Regions from separate parts of the Homo sapiens genome. Here region 1 is linked to region 2. The links come from fine-mapping of genetic effects on gene expression. Tissue or cell type: lung. Region 2 holds a variant in brackets; the other region holds the start of a gene. All regions are shown on one strand. Distances are from middle to middle.

What was found. PIP is the estimated chance that this variant, and not a neighbour inherited with it, causes the effect.
Region 1: MSR1 starts here. The variant in region 2 is fine-mapped to the expression of MSR1 in lung (TOPMed, PIP above 0.99). The same link has a PIP of 0.9 or more in aorta, blood mononuclear cells, nasal epithelium, tibial artery and whole blood.

What each region holds. Positions count from the first base shown.
Region 1 is chr8:16,189,638-16,195,035 of GRCh38, reverse strand. MSR1 (macrophage scavenger receptor 1) reads left to right here and starts at 2,385. Exons shown (of 10, transcript NM_138715.3): 1 at 2,385-2,438.
Region 2 is chr8:16,151,999-16,157,396 of GRCh38, reverse strand. MSR1 (macrophage scavenger receptor 1) reads left to right here. Exons shown (of 10, transcript NM_138715.3): 6 at 2,253-2,333. Among named protein-coding and RNA genes, the nearest start is that of MSR1, 38 kb to the left of the region's middle. The variant C/T (reference allele first, on the strand shown) is at 2,312.

The DNA.
Region 1 (5,398 bases), 38 kb before region 2:
ACCTACTTCAGCTTAAGAAAAAACTATATTTTGCCAAATTTTGTAATCAGACTGGGTTTAAATACCAGCTCTGATGACTCATAACTCTGATCTCGAGAAATTTACTTACCATCTCTAAACATTAATTTCTCAATTAGGGAAGTGATATGACAAAGTTGCTGTGAAGTCAAATGAAGGAATGAATGCAAAATCCCAACCCTTTACATATTACCTCTGTTCTCAATTAATCATTGGCTTGAACTGAACATTTTTAACATGGTTCCCTGCTAAAGGTGTTTTTACATATAGTAAGACCTAATAGATAATATTATGTTACATAATCTATAATTATTATATATAAAACTATATAAAATTATATAGTACCTATTTAGACATATAAAAAGGGAAGTTTTTTAATGAAAAATTAGATTGGCTGAAGAGTGTGGAAATCATCACATAGGGAAGTGGTCAGCACTGTGGATATACACCAAACAGTATTACAGAGACATACTGAAAATAAAGCACACTGACAGAAAGAAACCTCATTAGGATAGAATTTTGGGAGATTGGTGTCTTGTTATTCCCAGAGTCTGACTTTTCTAATCACGTAGCATTGTCAGGGATATCTAAATTTTAAACTTCAGATTTTGTACAAAAAAACCTAAAAGGACTATATTTTAAAATAAGAAGCATGTACAAATAATTGTAAAGGAAAGAGTGTGAGTTTTGTAGTCTCCAGTTCTGTGTCAGTAAGAATTTGATGAGGAATAGCCAATAGCATTTATGCTGGTCCAGGCTGGATCAAATTGTGATCGTACTTCTAGTCTTCAAGCTGCCTGGTTAGAAATTATGCAGCTTACTTTGATGCCTGTCCTACTACTACTATTAGCCTTTTAGTGGTTACCTTAAGAATAACTGAATAATACTGTTACTTTGCATCTCTCAAAGACCGTGCGCTGTTCCCGCATACTTTCTTGCAGACGTATTGTCTTCTGAAGGATGGTGCCCATGGGCACAGCAATTTGGGGCATCTTTTGGTAGGAAGCATGATTTCTCCTGTTTGGGCACAAAAGAGTGACTACGGAATATAAGCTAAACACCTTCTCCCAGAAATATCAGTTGTAAAACTTAGCTCATTAATGTAATGTTGAACGTTTTCATGTGAGTCATACTTGAACTTCTTGAATGTGAGTAAATAACGGAGTTGAATTGTATAAAACCCTGATGGATGGCAGAAGGGAAAGAACATCCCTTTCATCTGATCCATGCCTGAGATTCCTTCCCTCTACTATACTACTGGAAATAAACAACTTGTCTGGTGCTCTAAAAATTAATGCTATTATCATTATAGAGAGAACAGGAGTGAGTGCTTTTAGGTTATTACTTGTTCTTACTAAGGCATCATATTCTTTCTTCACGTGTTTTGTGTTTGAGGCTAGGGATAAAGGTACAGGAAAAAGGATCTAAGAAAAAAACTCGAATCTCTAAACATGGAGTCTTTTTTTTTTTTTTTTTTTTTGAGGTGGAGTCTCACTCTGTTGCCCAGGCTGGAGTGCAGTGGTGCGATCTCTGCTCACTGCAACCTCCGCCTCCTGGGTTCAAGCAATTCTTCAGCCTCAGCCTCCCGAGTAGCTGGGATTACAGGCGCATGCCTGGCCAATTTTTGTATTTTTAGTAGAGACTAGTTTCACCATGTTGGCCAGGCTGTTCTAGAGCTCCTGACCTCAAGTGATCCAGCCACCTCGGCCACCCAAAGTGCTGGGATTACAGGCATGAGCCACCACACCTAGCCAAACATGGAGTCTTTACTCAACATTATAGTAACGTGAAAGAGGAGATCATGAGAATTAATGTATGTTTTAGAAGGCATAGATTACTTATAAAAAAGGAAAGATCAGGCTGGGCACGGTGGCTCGCGCCTGTAATCCCAGCACTTTGGGAGGCCAAGGCGAGCGGACCATGAGGTCAGGGGATCAAGACCATCCTGACCAACATGGCGAAACCCTGTCTCTACTAAAATACAAAAAATTAGCCGGGTGTGATGGCACACGCCTGTAGAACCTGGGAGGCAGAGGTTGCAGTGAGCGGAGATCACACCACTGCACTCCACCCTGGTGAGACAGCGAGACTCCATCTCCAAAAAAAAAGGAAAGCTCAATCTGCTGTAAATTATGTGCTTGTTTCAACAACCCTTGTTTCTTTTCCTTTTCACTTCTCTTTTTTTTTTAAAGCGGCCTAAATGGGGTGAAGAGTGAGTTATCTGACAAATTTAGATTTTGCAAACCTGTGCATTGATGAGAGTGCTATTGAAACACATTAAGAAAGATTTTCAACGCAGGAATGTGTCATTTCCTTTCTTCATGTACCAGATGCTGAAATACTATGAGATAAAGATTTTAGGTTTCAATTGTAAAGAGAGAGAAGTGGATAAATCAGTGCTGCTTTCTTTAGGACGAAAGGTAAAGAAAAAAAAAGGCTTATTTTAATGTTTTTTCCAGAATTGTTTCTATTGATTGTTATGTGTGTACTCTGTGTGTGTGTGTGCATGCATGTGTGTGATATATATTTGTGTGTCTGTGTGTGTATGATGAGATGAATGCTTTATTGTATCAGCAATAATTTGGTTTGGTTTTTTTCGATAATCAAAAAATAGGGATTTCTGCTAAATTTTCCATGAGTGAAAAACATATATGTTCACAAGTACATATGAAATACACTAAATGCTTTGTAGTTTGAACCAGCAATGGGGTTTTTTCATATAATTAAGCATATTTTGTTTAAAATACTGGTTTTATTCAAAGTATAATTTGACATATTTCACCTATTCTCCTTTCATAACTTTTCATGGAACATTTTTGGCTTTAATCTAATGCCTTTTATTATCTTCCCTTGATTATATAGCAAATATTGGCTGGGTATCTACTATATGCACTTCATTGAACTAGATGTGGGGAAAGGATACAAAAAATAAGATATAGTTCTTTTTGTGCTCCGGAATCTTATGATTTAAAACATATCCCCAAATAGGCATAATGTAATTTGAGCACCTTAAGTAGTATGAAAGTACTATAGATAATTACTAGCACCTTAAGTAGTATGAAAATGCTATAGATAATTACTATGAAAATATAGGCGAGGCCAAAATTACTTCTATGTGAAAAAAGTCTATCAAAAATAAATCTTCATGGAGATGCTAGAAATCTGATTAATCTTGAAGACTAAGTAAGATTCACACAGCATATAATGGGAGGTTGGCATTTGCACTGACCAGGTAAAAATACTTATAGAAAAACCATAGAACTGAGATTACAGATGTTTTATGCAGTGATTAGCCGTTTTATGCAGTGGGTAAGAGCTAATCTTCTGGGAGTAGACTGCCTGTGTTCAAATTCCAGCTCCCCTGCTCCCTAGTTGAGTAACTTGACTAGTTACTTACACATTTCAGTTCCCTAACCTGTAAAATGGAGAAAATACTACTTGTACCTCATGAAGATTCCGTGAGAACAAAATAAGAAAAGCTCATATTTAAAAAAAAAGTGATATTTTAAAATAACAGGGATTCATATATTGATGGTTTTCTGTGTACCAGGCAATTTACAAAAATTATTTTTAATTCTCGCAATAATTCTTTAAATTTATATTGTGATCATATTTTACATATCTAAAGAAAGTTCAATTCAAATAAGTTAAAATATTTGCCTAAGATCACACAGCTAAATGATGTCACAGTCAATACTCAAATCTAGATTTCAGATTCAAAAGTTGATGCTCTTTCTTCTTTGCTACCAAGGATGAATATCAGTGACATCAGGCACAATATAAATATTTCCATTTCTTACTAAAATCTGTCTTACAGACGGGTTCCTTAAGCATAAAGCTGTTAGTTTCACAAATAATCTTAATTTAATTTTCATTTTATATACACATTCAACTGCTGTTACAAAAATCAAAGTTATTATTTTATATAATAAGGAGGATCACAAGCTTATTATTTATTCCAAATGTTGAAGATAAAGTTGGCCTTAAGAATATGATGGGCCGGGCACGGTGGCTCACGCCTGTAATCCCAGCACTTTGGGAGGCCAAGGCAGGTGGATTACCTGAGGTCGGGAGTTCAAGACCAGCCTGACCAACATGGAGAAACCCTGTCTCTACTGAAAATACAAAATTAGCCGGGCGTGGTGGTGCATGCTTGTAATCCCAGTTACTCCGGAGTCTGAGGCAGGAGAATCACATGAACCCAGGAGGCGGAGGTTGTGGTGAGCCAAGATCACGCCATTGCACTCCAGCCTGGGCAACAAGAGCGAAACTCCATCTCAAAAACAAAAAGAAAGAAAGAAAAAAGAAAGAATATGATAAAAAAACTAAATAGGGAAAAATCTTAGGAAAACGAATGCATGTCAAGTATGAAAAGACAGATGGTAAATATGTATTAAACATAAAGAGCTGATTCACATGCTTAGGTAAAAGAAACCTGTGGGGATGTATAAGCAGTGAATATGAATAGATAATAACCCAAGAAGAACAATGTATGACAGACAATTACAGTGAAATCTCTCTCTTACATTAATAATAAAAAATAAAAATGAAAACCACTTTTAGGTATTATTTAACTCTTATCAAAATCTAAATGATTCTAAAATAAGCTTTATTATTCAATGGTAGTGAATTTTGCTTGAAACTGCCATATTCACATATAAGTCTGGAATATTTATAAATTTATGTTATCTTTTTAAAGATCACTAAGACAGTAGAGCCCAAGAAGTTCAAAATAGTTTTCCTTTCACTTTTTAGTTTCACATATGATGAATTATCCTAAAGAAACATTTTAAAAGAAGAAAGCTAAATTATGAAAATAATGGCCGGGGCAGTGGCTCACATCTGTAATCCCAGCACTTTGGGAGGCCAAGGAGGGTGGATCACCTGAGGTCAGGAGTTTGAGACCAGCTGGATGAACGCGGTGAAAAATACAAAAATGAGCTGGGCATGGTGGCAAACGCCTATAATCCCGCTACTCGGGAAGCTGAGGCAGGAGAATCACGTGAACCCAGGAGGCAGAGGTTTCAGTCAGCTGAGATCACACCATTACACTCCAGCCTGGGTGACAAAGCAAGACTCAATCTCAAAAAAAAAAAAAAAAAGGAAATATTTATAACATCATTATTTATATCAGTGAAGCATTGCCCCCTGGGAAAAGGAAAAAAAGTTTAAAAGAAAAAATTATATTTTAGAAAAATGGCTGTATTTTTTATTTAGAAAAATGGCTGTATAAATAAGATTTTATATATATATAAAATATATATAAAATAAGATTTTATATATATATAAAATATATATAAAATAAGATTTTATATATATATAAAATATATATAAAATAAGATTTTATATATATATAAAATATATATAAAATAAGATTTTA
Region 2 (5,398 bases):
AGGGATCTTTAACTCCAAATTTTGTAAAATAATACTGATCTATTCGCTGTGATTGAACTAATACTCCAAAATTAAGTATACAGTTCCCATAATTACATGTAATATAATTGAAAGGATAGTTAGTAATTAGGAGAGTTCCTTCCATCTCTTACTTACCAAAGAAATGGTGAGAAGTCCATCTCAGAGGCTAAGAGTCTAGATCTATTCTCTGTGTCCCTTGTTTCTTCTTGTTTCATGTTCTAGTTTTTCCTGGAATGTCTGCGTCTTGCTTTGGATCCTGAGTTACTAAACTGAAATCTTTGCTTGCGCACTTTTTTCAAAATACCATCCTTGATTACTATCCCTGTGCTTCCCTTCAATTAGCTCAACAAAATTCAGGCATAAATTGAGTGTCTGTCCTGCTTGCCCCCCTCCCCTGGGATTCATTGCTATGTAGTGTTGAATGGATGCAGCTGCGTTCATGGTTATGGAAGTTACCATAACTCCATTTTCTTGGGAAGTACTACATTCTTCTGCAGGGAATAGGGGGCACATAGAGATTCCCTTTGATACAGAAATCTTACATTTCTTGTGCAGCATTTAAATATATGTCTCGCAGCAATTAAGCTATACCTTAGAATATAATACACCAGTTAATTTCTAAAAGCCCTGTAACATGTTGTTTGCATGACGATTATGTGGAAAAAAAAAATACACGTACACACTTAGGAAAGAAATGGTAAAGATCTTTAGTTAAAATAACACAACTACGAATTATATTCTTCCTCACGCTTTTTCTAGGCTTTTATGTTTCCTATAAGTAGAGTTGCTTTTATAATAAAAATACAATTAAATGTGTGTCCAATGTTGCATATGAGGAGAAAGGGACATTCTATTGAGAAGAGTAATAATGATATCTTGGGCCTCTAAAACCCAAATTGTACCTTGAAAATGGGACATACCAGAGGAATAGACAGAAGTAGAGTCAAGGATGTCAAAATAAGCAACAACAAAATGTACAAAATATACTTATTCATGAGATAATCTTTATTTATTTATGTGGTTCCCCCTCTTAGATTTCTTCGGGTATTATGTCTCCCACCTGATTAAAATTTGTAAACAAGTGCATTCTAACCAGGGATGCTGTATATATTTGTTTTCCTTGGACTATGTATGTGTCCAAACTAGCAATTGAAAATGCTTCCTTTAAAATATCACTATTTCCTTATTCTGTGGTGAATCTATGGAATAATGTTTCTTTCTGTTTCTTTCTTCTGGTGTTGAAAAGGAAACTAAGTGCTCTTCTTTAGATAAAGAAGAGATTATTTGTCCTCTGTACTCCATATGGAACATGGTGTTTAGGTAGGATTACCTTTGAGTTCTAAAGACATGCTAGGTATAATCATTTTAAAGGCATGATGAGCAGGTATCTGTTTTGCTGGACACAGAAAATACAAATGGCTAAATCAGGGTTGTTTAGTTACAGCTCTCAGGAGAGCCACCTGAAAAAAAATGATGAGACCAAAGTTTTCCTTGCAATGTCTCCATTTTGTTTACAGTATTTATAGCAACCTAGAAATTCTACTTAATATTTTACTTGAAAAAAGAATTCCTCTACTCATTTTCACCTTCCTGCCTTTCCTCATGCCTTTCTCAATCCCTAGGAATTGTCTTCCTTCCCCTTCCCTTCATTCTTGAAAGTACCCCTCATATCCTACTTTCTCAATGAAGACTTCAACCATCACCATTCACGCCGATCTACAGTTCACTGACAAATATCTGAGTTTATGGTCAGTTCCAACAAAGTGCTTTCTGGTTGTCTACCATGTGTGAATTTTCCTTTCCCTTGAGGGTATCACAAATGTCTTTTAAGTTCTTACTTATAGATTTTCCGTATAGTAGCTAATTCTGTATTATATCTAACTCTATGTCTAACTGCCTAGGATGCGTACAACACTAATGTGACTTTGTGCCAGCCTGCTGTCTTTTCTCTGCCCCCAGGTTCTCAGAACATAGAAAAGTGTTAGGCACACTCACATTTAATATACTGTTAGGTTGTTTACTTTGAGGCAATGTCATCCTCATTAGTATAGGGCATTATATTCCTGAATAGCAGAATACTCCTCCATTCATGAAGTTCAGTATTATACATTCTATATTATTGCACAACAAATAGAAGACTTTGGATTTCCTTATATAAGTACCTTGACAGATGACTAACCCATTTTTCCTATGCTTTACAACTATGATCAGTAACTGTAATTTTTTTAAAGGTCCTCCTGGACCCCCGGGTGAAAAAGGAGATCGAGGTCCCACTGGAGAAAGTGGTCCA[C/T]GAGGATTTCCAGGTCCAATAGGTATGGTAATTTTAGCTATTTAATCATATACTGTGAAGATAGATGATATACATCCAGGTACATGTGTAGGGGAGGATTGCTATTTTATTTATATCCTGCAGAGGATGTGTATGTGTGTGTGTGTGTGTATGCACGCACATGTGTGTATATGTGTGTGTGTTTTGGGGGATTAGTAAATGTTCTAGTAGCCTAATCACATAATACACTGAATGATAAGCATTACTCATGACTGTTGAAGAAAATAAATGCTTTAACCAGAGTAACCAAATGGAATTGTTTGTAAGTCTAGATAGTGACATGTATATAATAGACAGCAAACAGTATAAGGCAGACCTAACCGTAGATCATATGTGAAGGGGAGTACAACAATTATCTTTGCGTTGAATAAATCATCTTCACATTTGCAAGCTATCTCATTTTTAAGACATAAAAACTCACACTAGTAGTGAGTTATGAATCACAAGCAAATTGGACTATATTTCTTATATAGTATTTGGAATATATCTGTTTAAACTAATGAAATCTGAATGTAAATATTGGCTAAAATATGGATGACACTTACCTTGCTGACAGTCACTCTCTGTGCTTTACTAAGAGCAAAACTGTTTCAAATTATTTTCCTCTAAGTTGTAATCTTGAAAGAAATATTTTGAAAGAAGACACAGAAGAGAGAACATGAACTTTCTTTGCTTGAAAAAATAAAAAAGATAATAACATGATTGTCATGTTAGCCTTGGCTTGAAATCAAATATCCTGCATGCCGTTTGATGGTAGGAAGTATACTGCAAGGTCTAATTATAAGTAGAATGGTTTGTGTTACCAAAACATGTCTAAATACCATGTACTTCATCTTATTTTTCTGTCTTTTGATTATATAAAAGGTTCTTCTTTCTGATCAGTGTATTGACTAGCCCTGGTCACATCAGAAAAATTTTTGAAAATGAGAAGCATGAACTTGATACCTGCCTAAGCACATATATGTATATATATGTATATAAATATATATGGCATATTATATGTGAAGATAGATGATATACATCCAGGTACACATGTTTTATATATATAAAATAGCAATCCTACCCATATATATAATATGCCAAGTCAGGTGGTATTAGTATTGATGTGCTTTTGAATGCCTTGCCAGGAAAGAATTTTTATTCAGGAAAGTCTTTCTACTTGACTAATGCTAATCAGATATTAACAATGCTGCATTAATGTCATAAGCAGAGGAAATAACCAGTATTAAATCTGCTGCCAGAACTACCATTGTCAAGGGTCTATCACCCCCTCCATACAGGCTGCAATTGTCAGAGCTTTATAACTCAACCATAAAAATTCAGTCTGGGCTACATCTTGCCATACAGTGCTTCATCTTGGGAGAATCTTCTGCAGCTGTTTCTGAACTGTGAATGTATGAAATAGAAGGATTTATAAATTTCAGCTTGTGTTAATGTTATAAATAGACACCATTGCAAAGAATCTTTGATTTTGTTTTTTTTTTATTGTAAATTAACGATTTGTCATGGTTTAAATTTACAGGGTAAAAAGTGATGTCATAATTTGTTGCTTTTGGTACTGCTCATTTACACAAATAGGCATTACCCAGTTCCTCATAAAAGACAGGTCGAGTTCCTGGGGTAATCAATGACTCTTCTAGGTTATCAGGTTACCATTTTGTTTGGTGCACTACAAGAAAAGTATTCAAAATACCAGGCATCTTTCCTAATGAATTATTTCTGGATGTCTTGCTGCATTCTGTTCGTTTCTCCACCAGATTGTCTAATTGCCTTATATTTGATGCCGAAATCAGGAAGCAAAGAGTATATGATGGACAATCATACTAATTCTGCTTTCTAATCTGAGCAGGTTTATTGCTTCCCCATCTCTACATCCATTTGAGCCTACTAAACTCAGCTTGACCAAGTCAAACTCACCTAGACTCACAATCATGATGCGAATATCTGCAAAACCTAAGTGGTTGTCCTAGTAGCCTCAAATAACTAATACATTAAATATAGTAGAATTATTATTCATATACTAGGGTGGATATTATGTTTAAATATGCTTTATTCCCCAAATAATAACAAATTTATTTTAGAGGGCTATTTCCTTGAAAGCATGCTAGGGAGAATGACCTATCACTTTTCACTCAAAAACTATGTGCTGAGCACTTTCTCCAGGCCTGGTGTTCTACAATACCCTATAGAGTATGTGTAAACAGATACAGAATCTCTGAATTCACAGCGCTTCCAGGATGATAAGTAGTAATATAAGGGAGGCAAATGTCATGATCAAGGATTTTTTATCTCATGTGAGTTTCTTTTAAGGGGCTGATTTTACCCATGACAACAATGTTTTGAAGGAGAAGCAACTTTCTTTTCTAAAGGAAACTTTGTGTGGGCCATCTAAGAAGCTGTTTATGCCCAATGTGATCAATAACAAGGTAGTTTGACCTGTAGGCATGGGTGGGGCTACCTACATGAGATGCCCTCGAGAGAACTGAAGGCTTCTCTGGCTGCAAACTTTTCATCATCAACCAGTACTATTTACTTCCTTACGTAGTCTGAATTTTCCACCATAGGAATCGTGCTTCCAGAAGAGAAAATAAAGCTCATCTTACCCATAGATATTGGAAGAGAGGAACCATATTTTATTAATGTTTATATCCACGTATATCTTTACCCTGGCCCGCCCCTTCCCATAGGCTATGGCCCCAAGAAGGCCCCTCCCTAAAGCTTCAGCAAGGACAGGATCCTTAAATATACACCTGAGTAAGGAATGTTGCCTGGCTGCAGGCTGTCGCTCTACACCTGAGTATTGAAAGTGGGTTTTTTCTGGAAGTAACAAATTGTGCCAGTGAATCAAAAAATGTCACTGCTAACTGTGTACGTATCATTTAATAAAACTAAATTTAGAAGCCTTTACAACAGGCTGGTAAAAATAATGATTGTATTACTGAGGAGGAGGATGAGGAAGAGGGGGAGGAGAACAAGAAAAGCTAACATTTACAAAGTAGTCATTACATGCCAGGCACTTTTCTAAGTGTTTTACGTGTATGAGCTCTT